3 linked regions of the Homo sapiens genome follow. The protein of the gene in region 1 interacts with the protein of each later gene in a pairwise test. Each region holds a gene or a part of one and is shown in the gene's direction. Other genes may lie near its edges.

What was found.
Region 2: the proteins of CCNL2 (region 1) and ZBTB7B interact in binary tests that used the Homo sapiens proteins (3 or more experiments, as listed by UniProt).
Region 3: the proteins of CCNL2 (region 1) and USP20 interact in binary tests that used the Homo sapiens proteins (3 or more experiments, as listed by UniProt).

Annotation. Positions count from the first base shown.
Region 1 is NC_000001.11:1,389,336-1,396,441, reverse strand, and holds part of CCNL2 (cyclin-L2), read left to right. Parts: intron 1-904; coding exon of another isoform or gene 905-927; coding exon 928-1,048; intron 1,049-2,981; coding exon 2,982-3,046; intron 3,047-3,637; exon of another isoform or gene 3,638-3,638; coding exon of another isoform or gene 3,639-3,660; exon of another isoform or gene 3,661-4,852; coding exon of another isoform or gene 4,853-5,145; exon of another isoform or gene 5,146-5,576; coding exon 5,577-5,676; intron 5,677-5,878; coding exon 5,879-5,983; intron 5,984-6,070; coding exon 6,071-6,212; intron 6,213-7,106. UniProt on the Homo sapiens protein: Involved in pre-mRNA splicing. May induce cell death, possibly by acting on the transcription and RNA processing of apoptosis-related factors.
Region 2 is NC_000001.11:155,012,696-155,019,023, forward strand, and holds the end of ZBTB7B (zinc finger and BTB domain-containing protein 7B), read left to right. Parts: intron 1-1,319; exon of another isoform or gene 1,320-1,398; intron 1,399-1,910; exon of another isoform or gene 1,911-1,959; coding exon of another isoform or gene 1,960-1,965; coding exon 1,966-3,119; intron 3,120-3,524; coding exon 3,525-3,990; 3' UTR 3,991-5,828; downstream 5,829-6,328. Other genes in the region: DCST2 (DC-STAMP domain-containing protein 2), read right to left, coding at 5,849-6,065. UniProt on the Homo sapiens protein: Transcription regulator that acts as a key regulator of lineage commitment of immature T-cell precursors. Exerts distinct biological functions in the mammary epithelial cells and T cells in a tissue-specific manner.
Region 3 is NC_000009.12:129,866,436-129,873,541, forward strand, and holds part of USP20 (ubiquitin carboxyl-terminal hydrolase 20), read left to right. Parts: intron 1-1,569; coding exon 1,570-2,014; intron 2,015-2,426; coding exon 2,427-2,567; intron 2,568-2,874; coding exon 2,875-2,990; intron 2,991-3,169; exon of another isoform or gene 3,170-3,236; coding exon 3,237-3,409; intron 3,410-4,017; coding exon 4,018-4,112; intron 4,113-7,046; coding exon 7,047-7,080; intron 7,081-7,106.

The DNA of each region.
Region 1 (7,106 bases):
ATATAAAATTAGCTGGTCGTGGTGGTGCATGCCTGTAATACCAGCTACTTGGGAGGCTGAGGCAGGAGAATTGCTTGAACCTGGGAGGTGGAGGTTATAGTGAGCCAAGAGCGCGCCACTGCACTCCAGCCTGGGCAACAGAGTGAGACTCCATCTCAAAAAAAGAAAAAACATGGCCTCATCGGCCTCCCAAAGTGCTGGGGTTACAGGTGTGAGCCACTGCACCCAGCCCTTTTTTTTTTTTTTTTTTTCTGAGACGGACTCTCACTGTGTCTCACCGTGTCACCCAGGCTGGAGTGCAGTGATGCGATCTCGGCTCACTGAAACCTCCGCCTCCTGGGTTCAAGTGAATCTCCTGCCTCAGCCTCCTGAGTAGCTGGGATTACAAGCACCCGCCACCACGCCCGGCTAATTTTTGCATTTTTTTAGTAGAGACAGGGTTTCACCATGTTGGTCAGACTGGTCTTGAACTCCTGAGCTCAGGCAGTCTGCCTGCCTCGCCTCCCAAAGTGCTGGGATTACAGGCAGAGCCACTGCACCTGGCCCATCTGTATTTAAATAATTGTGCTTTCATTGGTTCTGTGGTTATTGAACTGTGAATATGTACCTTCCTATCGTGAGTCACATAAAGTGCTTTAGCATTTGTGCCACGAGATCCTAAAACTTGCTATGTTCGGTCTATGCTTGTGCACCAGAAGCTGTTGATCTATAAGGAAAAGCAGGGAGGGATCGTTGGGAAGGGATGAGGAGGTTGGCACTGGGCTGTGGGGAGCGGTGTGCAGTTTTGTTCATCAGAGGATGTGGACTTCATAGCGATGTTGTGTTGTGGGGTTTGTGTTAGGTGCTCATAGTTGGAGGTAACGACGGGATCTCAGAAGCCTTGCTCTGCTTGACTGTGGTGCAGACCCTGTGCTCTCTCTCTGGCAGGAAGCCCGTGCCTCTACTACTGGATCAAGATTATGTTAATTTAAAGAACCAAATTATAAAGGCGGAAAGACGAGTTCTCAAAGAGTTGGGTTTCTGCGTCCATGTGAAGCATCCTCATAAGGTGGGTGTGCGGCTCCTGCCCTGCGAGCCCGCCTAGGCCGCTGCTCCTGCCTGGCCGCCTCTCTCCACCTCAGTGCAGTTGAAGGCTCTGAAGAGGACTGAGTGCATCCCTGACTTGGCTTTCCAGTTTCTATTTATAATCTCAAGAATAGTTCCTGACGTATTCGTCTTCTAGTGTCAGCTGTTTATTTTAGTAACACATTTTTAAGTGTTTTGGAAATGGTATTATTTAAGTTTGGGCTTTCAAAAATAGTGGTGAGTTTATAAATGTTGAATTTTAGTTTATGTTTTCCTTTCTCTACAGTTAATTTTTTTTTGTTTTCTTTTTTTTTGAGATGGAGTTTCGCTCTATCGCCAGGCTGGAGTGCAGTGGCATGGTGGCAGTGGCAGTGGAGGCACAACCTCCACCTCCCGGCTTCAAGCCATTCTCCTGCCTCAGCCTCCTGAGTAGCTGGCACTACAGGCACGTGCCACCACGCCGAGCTGATTTTTGTATTTTTAGTAGAGACGGGGTTTCACCATGTTGGCCAGAATGGTCTTCATCTCTTGCCCTCGTGATCCTCCCACCTTGGCCTCCCAAAGTGCTGGGATTACAGGCATAAGCCACTGTGCCTGGCCTTTTTTTTTTTTTTTTTTTTTTTTCTTGAGACGGAGTCTTACTCTGTCATGCAGGCTGGAGTGCAGTGGTGCAATCTTGGCTCACTGCAACCTCTGCCTCCCAGGTTCAAGTGATTCTTGTGCCTCAGCCTCCCAAGTAGCTGGGATTACAGGCATGCGCCACCACACCTGGGTAATTTTTGTATCTTTAGTAGAGATGGGGTTTCGTCATGTTGGCCGGGCTGGTCTCAAACTCCTGATCTCAGGTGATGCACCTGCCTCGGCCTCCCAAAGTTCTGGGATTACAAGTGTGAGCCACTGCACCCAGCCTCAACAGTTAATTTTCTACATTTGCTTTAGTGATAGCTTTACTTTCTCTTATGGAGAAATTAGGGGAATTCTGGCCCCTTTAGTCTGAAATGACTGGCGAGTTTTGCGGCATGTACTGACTGAGGACCATGGCCGTGACACGGTCCCTCACTCCCAGCGTTGTGGGTGCCTTCTGTGTCACATGGAAACAAAGCACTTGTTTTCCCAAAAAATTGTTTCCATCTTTGGTTCCATCTCCTTTTTATTGGTGGGTTTCCTCATCTGCTTGTTCGGCTTTCTGCCATCTGTTCAAATTATCCACAAATTGCCCACCACAGATTGAAGTGCTTTTTTTTTTTTTTTGGAGACGGAATCTCGCTCTGTTGTCCAGGCTGGAGTGCAATGGCGCAACCTCAGCTCATGCAGCCTCCGCCTCCTGGTTTCAAGCGATTCTCCTGCCTCAGCCTCCTGAGTACCTGGGATTACAGGCGTGCACCACCATGCCTGACTAATTTTGTATTTTTAGTAGAGACTGGGTTTCTCCATATTGGTCAGGCTGTTCTCGAACTCCTGACCTCAGGTGATCTGCCCGCCTCAGCCTCCCAAAGTGCTGGGATTATAGGCATGAGCCAGTGTGCCTGGCCTGAAGTGTTCTTCTCTGTTTGCTGAAAGTATGTTCATATTGTGTTTTGGTGAGTTGTTAACTGGGATACAGAGACGTGTAGGACAGGCCAACCTCACTGGTGGAAAGGCATTGAAGACTAGAATGAAACCAGCCCCATGAAGAACGAGGCCTGTGCCGTGGGTTGTGTGGCTGGGCTCACGGGCATGCGTCCTGCCTGGCTGCCAAGGCAGACAGCAGGTGCAATCGCAAAGCTCCCTCCAGCTGAGCCGTCCGCCAGACGTGTGGCCAGGAGCCACTCCTGGGATCTAGCTTGAGGCTCTTGTTTGCTGCATGGACACCCACAAGATCTGAATTCTGGGCTCTTAAGGTTCTTGGTAATAACTGCCTGACCCGTATCTTCCAGATAATCGTTATGTACCTTCAGGTGTTAGAGTGTGAGCGTAACCAACACCTGGTCCAGACCTCATGGTGAGTTGAGCTTCCTTGTTTTATGAGACCAGCAAGGGCAGTGCAGGAATGTGTTGACTTGAGGCACTTGGGCAGTGGGTAGGCAGCCCAGTGACTTGGTTGTGGGCTGGAGTTGTCCGAGTGCCCAGTGCTCCTGCTGTATAAATTCCAATCAGACTCCCAAAATGGGCACTGGCAGTCACGGTAGGTGGCCCGTCCCCTCCCTGCAAGCCTGGACTTCCTGTGTCCCCCACCCTGAAGAGAGCAGTCAGTGGGCTTCCTCTGGGAGCTGTTGACTTGGCGCAGGGGGACCTTTTCCTGGGGAGGGTGGAGGGACAGGCTAGTGCAGACTTGGTCTGTTTCTCCACTGACATTGCATCCCATGGGAGAGGGGCAGAGAAGGTTCTGGGGCCGATTTTAGCAATGCATGTGCTAGAAAGGAACCCTAAAGTGCAATGTAGTATTTGGGGGATTCTGGGGATTCTGGTGAATTTTTTCCCATGGAGTTAAGTCTGTAAGGGTCATATTTTTGCTGACTGAATTGTCTGGTGCTATGACATGTTTAATAGAGAACCTATTTTGACTTTTCTTTTCTGTACTCTTTCAATCAAAGGGTAGCCTCTGAGGGTAAGTGACTAAGACTTCTCCTCTGCTGTCCAAGCGCTTTGGTGCAGGGACAGCGGCATCTTCAGCCAATCCAGTGCAGGCTCTCCACCGAAGGCTGGCTCTAGACTGGTGGTACGCACATAGCATAGCCATGGCCGACTCCTGCTGTGGTTCTCTGACGATTGTGCTTCTTGTTAATCCTCTGTCGTGCTTTGGTAATCGTATTGATTAGAGTTGGTAACTGTCTTGACTTGAATTTTGTCCCTTTAAAACTGCTGTACCTGTATGATAAAGATGCAGTACCTTTCTCTTAAAAAAAAATGCTATGGAAAGCTGTGAGAATTGAAGAGACAAATTGGCTGTGTCAGTGTGGGGTTATGTCATGATTTCTAGAAGCCCTGAAGTTGCTCTTTTGAGCAGCTTTGCATGACACGCTCTGGTAAAAGGTGTGCATCTTTAAATTATTTCATGGATACTTTGAAAAATATTGTATCACTTCAAATACAGCAATAAGTTTATATGTTCTCAAGATTTCATTTGTTTTTAAGAATTTTAAGTTCGTGGATTAATATCACTACTTGAATACTGACAGTTGTTGATTAGACACCGAAAGGTTACTGATTGTTGAATGTATCTGTGTTAGAGCTGTGCACTGGCACGCTTGCATCAGGGGCTGGGGCCACACGGCCGCCACACAGATTCCCCCGTGATGCCTGGAGCTGCTTCCAGAGCCGGGTGTCTCCAAGAGGCACCTGTAGGACTTCCCATTTAGAAATCTCTTGAGTGGGTTTGTATGTTACCTTCTCCAAGGTTTATTTAGGACAGAGATATTGCTGGAAGGTCATGGGTCAGATTCCCTCACAACCCACCTCGTCTGCGGGTGCAGCCCCACTCCAAGGCTCCCCGTTATTGGGGTATGTGAGGAGCAGTAAATATAAAACCAGTTCAACTGTCCTCATGGAATCACCCTTTCTGTTTTTGCAGTATTCATAAAGCTAGTGTAAGGTCTGGTTTTAGTCTATTAAATCTTAGAGATCTAAAGGAAATGCTCAAAATGTAGCCAGGTTTTAAATGCTTTAACTTTTAAAAAATGTAAATTTTTGTATGTTTATAGCTTCTAAATATGAAAGTTAAAGAATGTACTGTGATGAAATGTTCAGTATTATGTTGCTTCTCAGTATCATGTTGCTTCTCAGTATTGTGTTGCTTCTGATTCTATGAATGTTCATTTTAAGACCCCTTGTTGAAATGGGACAGTTGGCAGCGGCTCTGATGAGCCCGAGAAGAGGCCTGCCCTTGGGTGCGGAGTCTCCCTCCGCACGATGCTCCCACGCGTCCAACTTGCACCCAAGGGGCTTTTCCCTCTTCCAAGTGGACTCCTTCAAGGAAGCTGCAGCTCGGTCAGCAGAGAAGGGGCCTGCCGCCAGCGCCCTGGAGGAAGAGGAAGAGGAACCCAAGAGGATGGCTTGTCTCCCAGCAGCCACACCGGCTTTGTGCTCAGCCAGTTCATTTGAGTTTGCATGTTTCTCTGCACTATGGATTTTGAGCATTTAGATTTCTTTAATCAAAAGCGTTTTAGTGACTCCAGTAGACATTTTCTTTCTGAGGCATCGTGCTTTGCATGAGAGCAGGCCAAGGTTGAGGGGAAAAGTAAAGTTAAAGTCGGTTCTCTTTCATAGCAACACGTATTGTCTGACATTCAGCCAGCTTTTTTTTTTTCTAATAATTTCTGTGCCTTTCTGTCCTGTATTTACTGTATTTAGAAAAAGCAGCTAGAATATTTCTCCATTAACTCTTGAGATTCACAGGACTGTCTAGCTCTGAGTCCTAGCAATAGACTCCTTAGAGGAGTAGTACGTTTATCTAGATTTTCTCTAGATAATGCAGGCGGAAGACCTGGGTTCCCGGGTGGGGCATTGCAGTTCTTCCTGTGTTTGGCTTCCAGGAATTACATGAACGACAGCCTTCGCACCGACGTCTTCGTGCGGTTCCAGCCAGAGAGCATCGCCTGTGCCTGCATTTATCTTGCTGCCCGGACGCTGGAGGTCAGTGTGTTGCTACTATGGAGAGATTCTAGTCTGATTTTTTTTTCTCCAGCCTCCAGTAAACTTTACTGTGTTATTCTTCAAATTACTCTAATCTGGGCCAAAGCATTTTCGTGACCAACAGGCTGTTTTTTAATTGTCCTGAGTCTTGCTGGCCGTGAAGTTGAGGAAAGTGTAATGATGATAGTGTTTGTTTTTACAGATCCCTTTGCCCAATCGTCCCCATTGGTTTCTTTTGTTTGGAGCAACTGAAGAAGAAATTCAGGAAATCTGCTTAAAGATCTTGCAGCTTTATGCTCGGAAAAAGGTTCTTCGGCATTTTTTCATGTAACGTATGCGTTTGTGTTTGGCCAGAAACACCTGGTTCTGAACGGACACCTTCTGGCTTTTGCAGGTTGATCTCACACACCTGGAGGGTGAAGTGGAAAAAAGAAAGCACGCTATCGAAGAGGCAAAGGCCCAAGCCCGGGGCCTGTTGCCTGGGGGCACACAGGTGCTGGATGGTACCTCGGGGTTCTCTCCTGCCCCCAAGCTGGGTGAGTCTGTTAGAGTGCAGGAATCCACTCCCCACAAAGGCAAAGACTGGTGACTCTCCCCCGCCTCCATTCTGGGGTATGTGCTCCTTCCAGACATTTTTTTTTTTTTTTTTTTTGAGACAGGGTCTCTGTCACCCAGGCTGGAGTATGGTGGTGTGATCGCAGCTCACTGCAGCTTCCAACTCCTGGATTCAAGTGATCCTCCCACCTCAGCTTTCTGCATAGCTAGGACTACAGGCACATGCCACCATGCTTGGCTAATTCTTTTTGTTTGAGACAGAGTCTTGCTCCAGCCCAGGCTGGAGTGCAGTGGCGCAATTTCCTCTCACTGCAAGCTCCGCCTCCTGAGTTCACACCATTCTCCTGCCTCAGCCTCCTGAGTAGCTGGGACTGCAGGTGGCCGCCACCACGCCTGGCTAATTTTTTGAATTTTTAGTAGAGACGGGGTTTCACCAGGTTAGCCAGGATGGTCTCGATCTCCTGACCTCGTGATCTGCCCACCTCAGCCTCCCAAAGTGCTGGGATTACAGGCGTGAGCCACCGTGCCCAGCTGTGCTTAGCTAATTCTTTATCTTTTTAGTTGAGTCTGGGTCTTGCTATGTTGGCCGGGCTGCTCTTGAATTTCCTGGCCTCAAGTGATTGTCCTGCCTCAGCGTCCCAGAGTGCTAGGAGCATAGGCACCTGGCCTTTCTGTTGATTAGCAGGGAGTATGACAGGTTGTCTGAAATGCTTTTGTTTATCCTGCTGCCCAGGTAGCTTGTCATCTGATGAAGGTGTTATAGTGTGGGGCCATAGATGATACACGTCATCAGACCTAGAGTTCAGTGTGATGCAAAGGGCCTGTCTGCAGTTCTTTTTTTTGAGATGGAGTCTCGCTCTGTCGTCCAGGCTGGA
Region 2 (6,328 bases), about 150 Mb from region 1:
CAGGAGCCCTGGCCTTGCAATGAAGAGGGCAGGCAGGGAGGCAGACACAGAGAATGCACTTCTTGTGTCCTAAAGAGGAAATTTGTGGCTTGACTCCCCCATTCACCCCCCCACCCAAAAAAAAAAAAAACCTTTCCCCATCAATGGCCAGGTCTGAACAGCTGCTGGAGTGGCAGAGGGGACACTGACAAAATGTCAGTGGGACTTGCCTTAGGGATCATCTGGGCCAGTCTTTAATATTACATATGAGGAACAGGCTTCCTCAGGAAAGGAAGTGACTTGTCCAAAGTCATGTAGCTAGTAGTAGCTTGGTTCCCTCAGGGTGATTTGAGGGAGGGAGGCAGACCTGTCCCCAAGTAGTTTTCTTAACAGAGGCCATCTGTATAGTGGAATCTGACCCCAGGCTAGGCCAAGGCCAGAACATTTATCGAATCCCTACTGCATATCAGGCATTGTGCCATATTTGGTCTCATTTAACCCTCACCACAACCCTAGGAGTCAGGTGGAATTATCCTATGTTACAGATGAGGAAGGCGGCTCAGAGATTAAATCACTTGTTTAAGGTCATGGAGCTAACTGGTGGCAGAGACAGGATTCAAACTCAAGCCTGGCTGACTCCAGAGCCCAGTTCTTTCCAAGCCCCAGCACTGTCTCCAGTTGCTCCAGACCCACAAAATGTCAGGGCTGAAGGTCTGAGCCATTGGGGCCACTACTTCCACCCCCTCCTTGCACAGCTGAGGAAATGGAAGCACAGAGAGAAATGACTTTCCCAAGGTCATTCAGCAAGACAGTAGCAGAGCCAGGATTTAAAGCAGGTCTCACCCCCTTCCAGGCCCCAACCCCTGCCGACACCTCTGCCAGCCTTGGTGCTCTGCACCCACCTCCTGGCTGCTCTGCACCCACCTCCTGTGGCTGGGCCTTGGAGGGTAAAGGATAGAGAGCAGGACCAAGGCCTTCTGGAGACGGGGCTCTCCTGGAATAGGGAGGGAGGGGTGGCAGTAGCTGAGGGGGAGGTGGGGGGTGGGACTGGAACTTGGCCTATTGGCAGTGGGGGAGGGGGCGGGGGCGATGCTTATCTGTGCGGGGCAGGAAGCACCCGCGCCAGCCAGTGACACCCCAGCAAAGGGTGGCTGCTCCTTGGCCCCATGGGGGAGGGGAGGATGTGGGGGGAGGGATGCTGGGAGCTGTGTTTCCCGTTTGGCCTGGAGAAGTGGGGGATCTAGAAGGGGAGATGAACTTTTGGTAGCCAGGGGAGGGGCAAGAGGAGGAAGAGGATGATGCTTGGAAGCTGCCTTCTCTTGTTTGCATATGTTTTACAGTGTCCTAACCGCTTTGGAGAGCGATAACTTGAGTTAAAGCACCTGTCTGTGCCTGGCCTCCAGCAGATCTTGGTCCAGTGTGAGTCTGAACTCTCTCATTGGCCTCTCCCCAGGTTATGAGGAGGTTCATTACAAAGACTGTTACCTCACTTTTCAAATGACTGAGGCCAGCTGCCAGTACCACCCCCGGTCCTTCAGCCAATTCTTTATGAAGCCTGAACCGGGACCCAGGCATCCTATCTCCCAGTCCACTGCTCCTTCCAAAGAGATGGGGAATGGGGCAGGTGACATAGATGGACCTCCATGAAAGGGCCAGAAAGGCAGGGCTCCTGCTGCCACAGAGGCAGAGTAGAATAGTATAGTGGTTAGGAACAAGGACCGGGCCCACTCCCTGAGTTTGAACACTGTTCTGCACTTAACTTGGAAAATCACTTCACCTGTCTGAACCTCAGTTTCCTTGTCTGTGAAACAGATGATGATCATACTTCAGAGGGTTCTGGAAGATGAAATGAGTGTAAAGTACTCAGAAGGGTGACTGGCATGCAGTCATCCCTCAATAAGTATTGGCTAAAGTTGGTCCTCTTTCCCCAGACCCCTGTGGGCTGAGCGCTCTTAATCTCCCCTCTACTTGACTCTGCAGGAGAAGATGGGGAGCCCCGAGGATGACCTGATTGGGATTCCATTCCCGGACCACAGCAGTGAGCTCCTGAGCTGCCTCAATGAGCAGCGCCAGCTGGGCCACCTATGTGACCTCACCATCCGGACGCAGGGCCTTGAATACCGCACCCACAGGGCTGTGCTAGCTGCCTGTAGCCACTACTTCAAGAAGCTTTTCACTGAGGGCGGTGGCGGAGCTGTCATGGGGGCCGGGGGTAGCGGGACGGCCACTGGGGGAGCAGGGGCCGGTGTGTGTGAGCTGGACTTTGTAGGGCCAGAGGCACTAGGCGCCCTCCTTGAATTTGCCTATACAGCCACACTGACCACCAGCAGCGCCAACATGCCAGCTGTGCTCCAGGCTGCCCGCCTGCTGGAGATCCCGTGTGTCATCGCTGCTTGCATGGAGATTCTGCAGGGCAGTGGGCTAGAAGCTCCCAGCCCGGACGAGGATGACTGTGAGCGAGCCCGCCAGTATCTGGAGGCCTTTGCCACAGCCACGGCCTCTGGAGTTCCCAATGGTGAAGACAGTCCTCCACAGGTGCCCCTCCCACCACCTCCGCCACCGCCACCTCGGCCTGTTGCCCGCCGCAGCCGCAAGCCCCGGAAAGCTTTCCTGCAAACCAAGGGGGCCAGAGCAAACCACCTAGTCCCTGAGGTGCCCACAGTGCCCGCCCATCCCTTGACCTATGAGGAGGAGGAGGTGGCGGGCAGAGTGGGCAGCAGTGGGGGCAGTGGGCCGGGGGACAGCTACAGCCCTCCCACAGGAACTGCCTCCCCTCCTGAGGGTCCCCAGAGCTACGAACCCTATGAGGGTGAGGAAGAAGAAGAGGAGCTGGTATATCCCCCAGCCTATGGGCTGGCGCAGGGTGGCGGGCCCCCGCTGTCCCCAGAGGAGCTGGGCTCAGATGAGGATGCCATCGATCCTGACCTGATGGCCTACCTAAGCTCCCTGCACCAGGACAACCTGGCACCAGGCCTGGACAGCCAAGACAAGCTGGTGCGCAAACGCCGCTCCCAGATGCCTCAGGAGTGCCCTGTCTGCCACAAGATCATCCATGGGGCAGGCAAACTGCCTCGCCACATGAGGACCCACACAGGCGAGAAGCCCTTTGCCTGCGAGGTCTGCGGTGTTCGATTCACCAGGTGAGCAGCAAGGGGGGAAGGGCCCGGCAGGGGCCATGGGTAGGGGACAGGGTGGGAGGAGATGGGGAAGAAGTTAGGAGACCCGAGGTGGTGGTAGGTGGTCCTGGAGGGACTGGGGCATGGGTGGGTTACTGGAGTGAGGAGAGCAGAAGAAAACAAGCCAGCAGGGGGTGGATCTGGAGCATGGAGGATTCGGTGCCCAGGAGGGCAGTGCTGGAAGCAGAGGAGTGGATAATGACAAGGCCTAGTTAAGCTAGAGGTGAGCTAGCAGGGTATCTCCTGGGGCAATAGTGGGGTAACAAATGGTGAGGAACAGGGATGGGACAAGGCCAGGGTGGGATGACCAGGAGGAGCCAGGGATCCCATCCTGAACACCTCCCTGCCCCTCACCCCTGCCTGTGCCAGGAACGACAAGCTGAAGATCCACATGCGGAAGCACACGGGAGAGCGCCCCTACTCATGCCCGCACTGCCCAGCCCGCTTCCTGCACAGCTACGACCTCAAGAACCACATGCACCTGCACACAGGGGACCGGCCCTATGAGTGCCACCTGTGCCACAAGGCTTTCGCCAAGGAGGACCACCTGCAGCGCCACCTCAAAGGCCAGAACTGCCTGGAGGTGCGCACCCGACGGCGCCGCAAGGACGATGCACCACCCCACTACCCACCACCCTCTACCGCTGCTGCATCCCCCGCTGGCCTCGACCTCTCCAATGGCCACCTGGACACCTTCCGCCTCTCTCTAGCTCGATTCTGGGAGCAGTCAGCCCCCACTGGGCCCCCGGTCTCTACCCCAGGGCCCCCTGATGACGATGAGGAGGAAGGGGCACCCACCACACCCCAGGCTGAAGGTGCCATGGAGTCCTCTTAAAGAGGGACGAGGGCCAGACTGAAGCAGCACAAGGCCGGGGACACCCATGCCAAGCAGTGGGAGCACGCAGGACAGACACAGCAGGGGTCTGGGGCACGGAGCCTTGCTGGCATCAGCATCAGCCCTTCCTCCCAGAGCCCTCATTCCAATTCCAAGCTAAGAAGGTATTGGGGCAGAGGCTCCCCAAATTGGGGTGATCCCCCAAGGAGTGATACATATATTGTGTATATATTTACAGCTGTATTGTAAAAGTGGGGTCCCTGTCCCCAGCTGCTCCTGGGGAGTAGAAGCAATAATGTATTTCTAATTTGTGGGTCCCACTTCGGCTATGCGGGTTTCTAGGGGGTGGGGGCTTGGGACCAAAGCCTTGCCCCGCCCCTATGCCCCTTGGGGGTTTTGGCTGTGTAAGGGGGTGAAGGACTGCCCCTCCCTTTCGAGACCCCTCCTTCCTGGTTTCTGTTCCTTTTTCCTGGCAGTGAATTATGCAAAGGGGGCCGGCAAAGGAAGGGTAGGTGGGGGAAAGCCAGGTGGAAGCTTGAAAGACTGGGGGACTGGGCCTGTAAGGAAGGAGCCATCCCAGTCCCCCTCCGCCCTGCTCCCGGCGCTGAGTCATGGGGTCGTGGAGAAGGGGGCGGGGTGGCCTGATTGGCTCGCCTGCCCCTGGGGGCAGTAGAGGGGCCCCGCCCAGCTAGGGGAGCCGCTCCGTTCCACTCCCCTCCCTAGCCCTCCCTCCCCACGGCCCTGGGCAGGGAATGTCTTGTTCCCGCCGCTCCCTCCCCGGGGCCAGAGGGCAGGGCGGGCCGGGCGGCGTCCTACCCTCTTCTCCTCCTCCCCATCTCCTCCCCGCCCAGGTGCGAGCCGGAGCCGCCGCCACCGCTGCCGCCCCTGACTCACGCCGCCCCCGGGCTGGCGCAGCGAAGGGTGTGGGACAGGGTAAGGGGTTGGAAGAGCCTTGTGGAGAGCGGGCGAGCCGGCGCCATCTGGCGGCCATGCTCTGAGTGGGCGAGCGCCCCCCGCGGCCACTGGAGCGAGCTGTCTTCACGCTCCTCATCCACCCCAGCTGGTGAGCGGCGCCCCCTTGCCAAGGCAGTGGGCACAGAACTTCTCGCTTGGCCGCAGGGGAAGGGGCTGCGGACCTGTGGGAAAGTGATCCCCTTCCCAGATCCTTGCCAGCCGGGCTTCCTGTCAGGCAGGGGAGAATAATCCCCACTCTGCTCTTAGGATTGAATCCACCCCCATTCTGTACATAGCCTCTTCTGTTGGTCTTGTTGAAATCTAGTTTCAGATTTTTAACTACCCAATTCTGCTGGGGGTGGGGGACACCCCCCCTTCCTCGCTGGGTGCTGGACCCCTTTTGCAGCCTGGGCTCTGCCTTGCACTATTTCCCCTTCCTGGCCTGACGGCTCCTCCCCCTCCTTAAAAGGGGCAGGTTCAGGGGCCCGGTGCTCTTCCTCCCTTCCATGCACCCCCATGCCCATTTGCACAGCTGCCCAGGTACCCCTAACAGTGGGGAGGGGTCACAGGGAGGGGGTAGCGGGACCAGTCCCTGTTATCTATTTAAAAAGTGATGATGTAATATATTGGGGTGGCGGGGAGATCGGGTTGTCCTGGGCCTCATCTTAGCATTTCAGGTGATGGGGGGAGCCCAGGGCTGGGGAGACCTGGGGCCCAGCCCCAGAAAGTGGGGACAATGTGGCCTCCCTTCTCCCTACTTTCGGCTTTCCCAGTCAGTGCCTTAGGGGGAGAGGCACTCCCCCCCTCCTATTCCCTTCCCCCCACCCCAACTCCCCCACCTCGGGTGTAAGCGACAGGAAGAAATAATAATAATTTAAGATTCACACTTGTGTCCACTTTTGGTTTATTTGGGGGGTGGGTGGGAAGGATCAGGAAGAGAGGGAGGTGAGAGAGGGACTGAGGGTTCTGAAGCTGGAGTGGGGGCTCCTTTAGTGGCGGAGGATGTCTCAGGTGGTCTGTGGGGCTCAGGGCTGGTGAGAATGCTGACAGGCTGATGGGCTTCAGGTAAGGGCTGCTGCCCGTGCTTCCTCTGCTGAGGCCCCTTCTCCTCATCCAGGTCACTAGTGAGGAGAGGAAGGGGGTGGCCGGATCACCCACCTTCTGTCTTCACAGGTGCATCCCTGCCCCCTGCCCTGCCCCATCTGTTCAGATCCAGCTCCTGTTCTTTCTGAGCAACTCCTGCTCTCTCAGGCCCACGAGGCGTACCAGCCCATGGCTGTAGATATTTTCTGATTTTAGGCTGATGCTGGGGGGTGGGCAGTGACTTGCCTGAGGCCACATGGCTAGGAAGGGCAGAATCACTAGTGACCTCAGTAGTCACACC
Region 3 (7,106 bases), on another chromosome or scaffold:
AGGTAAAGAGCTGAGGCTCAGAGAGGTTCTACCCCTCACCCAGGTCACACAGCACATCCTGGCAGAGATGGCATTCAGGCCTACCTGAGCCCATCCCTCAGCACAGCACCACCCTGACTGTGTGCAAGGCGCCCTGCCGGCTTTCAGCTCTGGGTCAGGATGCCGTTACGGAGGGCCATGCGCTGCGGCAGGACTCCATCTGGGCTCCGGCAGAAGCATCCCTTTCTGTGGTTTTAGGATATCGTGTGGGGACACTTCTGAGGCTGAACTGTAGACGCAGCTGCGGGCGCCTCTTAAGGGCCAAAAGACTCTTTTGTGCTTCTGCATGGATTGAGATTTTGGCAAGGAACACATAGTACTTTTGTTGAAAGGAAGAACCAGAAAGAGAAGTAGATGGCAGATTGAAAGCCTCTTCTTGAAAGGGCCTTTGATCGTGCCTGCCACAGGACACGTGTCCCCTCCCTGATGCAATGTAACCTCGTGGTTCATTCCTCTGATCTTGGAGCCTGACACTTTGCCTTGGGGAGTCCCTCCTGAGCCCTCCCTTCCCTGCACATGAGTGGAGAGAGCCGGGATCCTCTTCCCAGATGTGTGACATGAGGCTGGCTCTGGCTGCTACGTGACCCCTGCCTCCTGGGGATCAGAGCCTGGGCTGAGGGCTGCTTCTAACAACCAGGTCAGGGACTGCTGGGGCTGATTTGGGCTCGGAACCCAAGTCCTTCTCCAATGCCCAGCACCACCCGAGCACCCGCTAGCTGCTGGGGTCTGCTGCCACCACCACGTTCTGACCTCCCAGTGCACCCCCTGTGTGAGCACACAGATCTCAGTGGGGCTCACTGGGCGCCTCTGCCCGAGCCCCTGCTGCCTTGGCTTCCTGCTGTGCTGGTGGCCCAGTCACAGAGTGGTCAGGATAAAATGGTCATTGCTGGGATTTGAGACCCAGGCAGCCTGCAGGGGCAGCTTAGACTGAGTCATGACCAGGTCTGTGGGAAGGTGAGAGCAGGCAGTGAGGGTATGTGGGGGCTGGCACAGGGACTGAGGGAGCAGGGGGAGCCAGAGGAAGGGTAGAGCATGCAGGCAGTCTGGCCTGTGGGTAGCGTGGCTTGGGGCAGGACTCGGGTGAGTCCTCTTTTGGCATCACACTCCCTCATCCTTCCGCCACCCCCCTGCCCACCTCCACTGGTCTCATCTGTAGGGAGAAAGGTGGCTCGGGCTTAATGTGGTACTGCCTCTCTGTCCCTCCCGTGCTGAGCTTGCAGCAGAGGCAGGAGATTCAGAGCCGGAGCCGGGGAGTTGCATGGACCCAGGTGCATACCTGGCTCTGACACTTTCTAGCTGTGTGTCCTGGTAGGTGTCCTTTAGCCTCTCCAGTCCTCACTGTTATCCTCAGAAGAATGGGGTTAGGACAGACTGCCATGGGAGGCCGCTGTGGGGGTGAGCAACTCTTCTGCAGGGGGCGCCCATGAGGTCCTCCTAGATGGAGGCTGGCGCTCTCATCAGCCACAGGGCGCTGGAGACTGGTTCCTCCTGCCTCCAGGGGAGCCCTGTTGATGCAGCCCCTGGTTCTAGGACACCCAAGAGTTCCTTCGCTGCCTGATGGACCAGCTGCACGAGGAGCTCAAGGAGCCGGTGGTGGCCACGGTGGCGCTGACGGAGGCTCGGGACTCAGATTCGAGTGACACGGATGAGAAACGGGAGGGTGACCGGAGCCCATCAGAAGATGAGTTCTTGTCCTGTGACTCGAGCAGTGACCGGGGTGAGGGTGACGGGCAGGGGCGTGGCGGGGGCAGCTCGCAGGCCGAGACGGAGCTGCTGATCCCAGATGAGGCGGGCCGAGCCATCTCTGAGAAGGAGCGGATGAAGGACCGCAAGTTCTCCTGGGGCCAGCAGCGTACAAACTCGGAGCAAGTGGACGAGGACGCTGATGTGGACACTGCCATGGCTGCCCTTGACGACCAGCCCGCGGAGGCCCAGCCCCCGTCACCACGGTCCTCCAGCCCCTGCCGGACGCCAGGTATCAGCTGGCCGGGGACTGCGGGAGGAACCTCAGCCTATGGCCCAGTACCTACCGGGTGCTGAGCGCCGACCTGCAGTAGCCCCCGGGGGACGGGTTCTTCACTAGACCCGAATGACAGTGGGGAAGTCAGCCTCCGGGGGGGCTCAGTGATGTGCCCAGGGTCCCCTAGCTCATAATGCTGGAGCCCAATTCAGAGCCCTCTCCCAGAGCCCTGAGCCTTCCAGCCGGACATGGATTGGACAGGTCTGCTCCGGCCTGTGTGCTGGGGCCAGGAGTGGGCACATGACAGAGGAGACACATTAGGGTCAGGCTTTCGTCCCTTTAGGAGGGGCTGGCAGGTCATCTTCCTGCCCACTCGTGGAGCTGGCCTGGCTGCCCTGGCCCAGCATGGTACCCTCTCTGCCCCCAGAGCCGGACAATGATGCTCACCTACGCAGCTCCTCTCGCCCCTGCAGCCCCGTCCACCACCACGAGGGCCATGCCAAGCTGTCTAGCAGCCCCCCTCGTGCAAGCCCCGTGAGGATGGCACCGTCGTACGTGCTCAAGAAAGGTTCGGGGGGCACGGGAGGGTGGGTCAGCTTGAGGCTGGGAGTACAGATTACGCCCGTAGCTGCCTTTCTCATGGCCCCCTGTGGCGGAGGGCCGGGCTATGGGCTCCTCTCAGGTACACCCCTGAGACACCAGTGTGGGAGCCACGTTTTGCAGAGGATGACACAGAGGCATGAGATGGTGAATTGCTTACCCAGTCATGTGACTCACGGATGTCACTCCACATCCTGTCAAAGGAAGCCGCAGGGCCCGCACCTCGCCCCGGCCAGGCAGGTGGAGGCTGGGCTAGTCCTGTGCTGTGTCCCCAGCCCAGGTATTGAGTGCTGGCAGCCGGAGGCGGAAGGAGCAGCGCTACCGCAGCGTCATCTCAGACATCTTTGACGGCTCCATTCTCAGCCTTGTGCAGTGTCTCACCTGTGACCGGGTGGGTGCCCCAGGGATGGGGGGAGCTGGGCCAGGCTGCCAGTGGCCTCAGCAGCTCTTGCCCTGACTGGGTGCAGGGTGGGCTCTCCACGGGTGCTCCCTGCTTTTATCCAGGGGAGGGCCCTGCCTGCGTGGATCCCGTGTCTATGGCCTGGGGAGTAGTCCCTCTGCCCCTCACCTGCTGCTTGGGGTTTGGGGTGCAGACATTGCCAGAGGATGGGCAGCAGACTGACCTTCAACCCCACAGGTATCCACCACAGTGGAAACGTTCCAGGACTTATCACTGCCCATTCCTGGAAAGGAGGACCTGGCCAAGCTCCATTCAGCCATCTACCAGAATGTGCCGGCCAAGCCAGGCGCCTGTGGGGACAGCTATGCCGCCCAGGGCTGGCTGGCCTTCATTGTGGAGTACATCCGACGGTGCGCCCACCTTGCCACTACTGGGCGACATGGGCTGGGCCTGTCCTGGTTTTCCTGGGCGGGAGACAGTACACAGTGAAGTCCATGCATTTGGGGAACCAGGGAGGTCCTGGGAGGAGCTGGGGGCCGAAGCCTGCAGAGGAGTTGGCTTAATATGCAGGGGATTTCTTGGCTACTTTGAAGTGGCCAGGATTGGATAGTCCCTTGGAGCTGGAGGGCGATGGACAGCAGGGAGGTGACCACATGGCAGGTTGAAGGGAGGGCAGCAGCAGGACACAGGCCTGGTTGGCGGGAAGGGCAGCAGCTTTCCCAGGGCTGCCTCTCCTGCCTGAGGCCAGAGACCCGCATGACCCCAGGGAGGGGGTAGCATGATCATGGCCGCAACACAGATGAAGGAGGCCAGGCTTGCGGAGAGATGATGTCACTCGGCCCAGGACACGGACGTGTCTGGCTCCAGGCCTCTGCCCCGACCCGCCGTGCCCGGCTGCTTCTCTGGGCCTTCAGGGTCCTTCTGCGGCTCAGGCCTGACAGACCTCAGCCAGAGTCCCTTCAGCTCCTGTTCTTGCCCAGGCCCTGGCAGCACCCCTGCACTCCTTTTCTGTCTGTAGGTTTGTGGTATCCTGTACCCCCAGCTGGTTTTGGGGGCCTGTCGTCACCCTGGAAGACTGCCTTGCTGCCTTCTTTGCCGCTGATGAGTTAAAGGGTGAGGGGCCTGGCTGGCAAGGGTCGGGGAGGTGGAGGGTTGTGGGGACGGGGATGTGCAGACCCCAGCAGGCCAGCATGCAGCCCAGGGCTTGTGGGATGCACAGCCAGGCTAGACTTGGCTTCCAAGGTTGATCCCATCAGATACCCACGCCCACTGCCAGCCACGCTGGACCAGGGCCATGTGCTATCCCAACCCCATCATCTTGCAGCTCTTGAGTGTTCACTTATTTTTATTTTTACCAATTTGGTGGGCAAAAATGATGTATGTTAATTTTTCATTTCCTTGATTACTGATGAGTTTCTACATTTTTTGTTAAATATACTGGCTCTATGTATTTATTTAAACATTGCCCATTCCTGTTCTTGTTCTTTTTCTCCGTTGGCTATTTGGCATCTAAACCTTTGGGAAAACTCTCTCTTTTTTTTTTATTTCCAATTTTCAATTGCGATAAAATACACAAAATGTAAAATTTACCACCATAACCATTGTAAATGCTGTTTTTAACAGAAAGTGCACAGTCGAGTAGTGTTAAATACATGCACATGGTCACGCAGCCATCCTCCCCATTCATCTCCAGAACTTTTACATCTTGCAAACCTGAAACTCAGTATCCGTGAAACAGCTCCCTACTCCCACCTCCCAGCCCCTGGCAACCTCCACATTCAAGTCTGTGAATGTGACTACTCTAAAGGCCTCATAGAAGTGGAATTATACAGTACTTGCCATTTTGTGACTGACGGCTTTTACTGAGCATAACGTCCTTAGGGTTCATCCACGTTGCAGCGTGTGTGTCGGAATGCCCTGCCTTTTGTATGCTGGTTATTTATTGTTCCATTGTGTGGATGGCTGGGGCCTTTCTGCTTATTCGTTCATCCGTCAGTGGACACTCAGGCCGCTTCCCTGTTAGCTATTGTGAGGAATGCTGCTCTGACCATGGGTGTGCACACCTCTCTTCTTTCATCCCTTTGGGTCTATGCCTATTTTTAATTTCTCGAGGAGCCACCGTACTGGGTTCCACAGTGGCCACCCCATTTCACATTCCCACCAGTGACGCACAAGAGTTCCAGTTTCTCCACATCGTCGTCCACACTCATTTTGTTTACTTTTTTGATGGGAGTCAACCTCATGGGTATGAGGTGGTATCTCATTGTGCGTTTTTTTTGTTTTGTTTTGTTTTGTTTTTGAGACGGAGTCTCTCTCTTGACGCCCAGGCTGGAGTGCAATGGCATGATCTCGGCTTATTGCAACCTCCACCTCCTGGGTTTAAGCGATTCTCCTGCCTCAGCCTCCCGAGTAGCTGGGATTACAGGCACATGCCACCACGGCTGGCTAATTTTTGTATTTTTAGTAGAATGGGGTTTCACCATGTTGGCCAGGCTGGTCTTGAACTCCTGACCTCAGGTGATCCGCCTGCCTTGGTCTCCCAAAGTGCTGGGATTACCGGCGTGAGCCACCGCACCCAGCCTCGTTGTGGTTTTGATTTGCATTTCCTAATGATAGTGATGTTAAGTGTCTTTTCATATGCTTGTTGGCCATTTGTAAGTGTTTGGAAAAACATCTATGTGAGTCTTTTGCCTATTTTGTTTTTTGTTGCTTGTTATAGGGATTCTTTTTTTTCTTGAGACAGAGTCTCACTCTGTCACCCAGGCTGGAGTGCAATGGCATGATCTTGGCTCACTGCAGCCTCCGCCTCCTGGGTGCAAGCAGTCCTCCCATCTCAGCCTCCCGAGTAGCTGGGATTATAGGCACGTGCCACCACACCTGGCTAATTTTTGTATTGTTAGTAGAGATGGGGTTTTGCCATGTTGGCCAGGTTGGTCTCGAACTCCTGACCTCAAATGGATTTGCTGCCTTGGCCTCCCAAAGTGCTGGGATTACAGGTGTGAGCCACGGTGCCGGCCTCGTTAGTTAGAGGAGTTCTTTATGTGTCCAGATACGTGACTTATAACCCTGTCCTCCCATCCTGTAGGGTGCGTTTCATTCTGTGGTTTGTGTCTTTTGCTTTGGTTGCCTGCACCTTTGGTGTTGTGTTTCAGAGATCATCGCCAGATCCAATGTCATGAAACTTTTTTCCTACTTTTCTCCTAAAAGTTTTATAGTTTTAGGTCTTATATTGAGATCTTTGATCCCATTTTGACTTAATTTTCACAGTGTGCATGGAGGGGGAAACTATACATTAAGATTTTAAGCTGGTCATGGTGGCATGTACCTGTGACCCCAGCTACTCCGGAGGCTGAGGGTCCTCTGAGCCTAGGACTTTGGGACCAGCCTGGGCAACATAGCAAGACCCTATCTCAAAAAAATTGTTTCAAATACATTTTCTGTAATTAATGTTGCACTTCCCACCCCACCTCCATTTTGCCTTTTGCCTTTTAATTTTGCTTTTGGTGGTATCTTACAGATGTTGAAGTATTTCTGGGGTCAAATATAACCATTTCTCCCTTGTATGGATTCTGGCTGTGGGGCCCAGCCAGGGCCTTCCCTCCCTCCAGTACCTCTCAGGTTTTATTTCTTTTTCTTTTTCTTCTTCTTTTTTTTTTTTTTTTTTTGAGATGGAGTTTTACTCTGTCACCCAGGCTGGAGTGCAGTGGCATCAGCTCACTGCAGCCTCTGCCCCGAGCCCCCCAGGTTCGAGCGATTCTCCCACCTCAGCCTCCTGAGTAGCTGGGATTACAGGCACGCACCACCACGTCCAGCTAATTTTTGTATTTTTAGTAGAGATGGGGTTTCGCCATGTTGGCCAGGCTGGCCTCGAACTCCTGACCTCAGGGGATCCGCCCGCCTCGGCCTCCCAAAGTGCTAGGATTACACGCATGAGCCACCATGCCCAGCCAGGTTTTATTTCTTAAGCAGAAATCATTATAGTCACTTTTTTTTGCTCCCTCATTTTGCATCCTTGCTAACCTCTGACCCTTTGTTTTACTGCCCTAGGTGACAACATGTACAGCTGTGAGCGGTGTAAGAAGTAAGTGAGCCTTCCCCCGCCTTCTC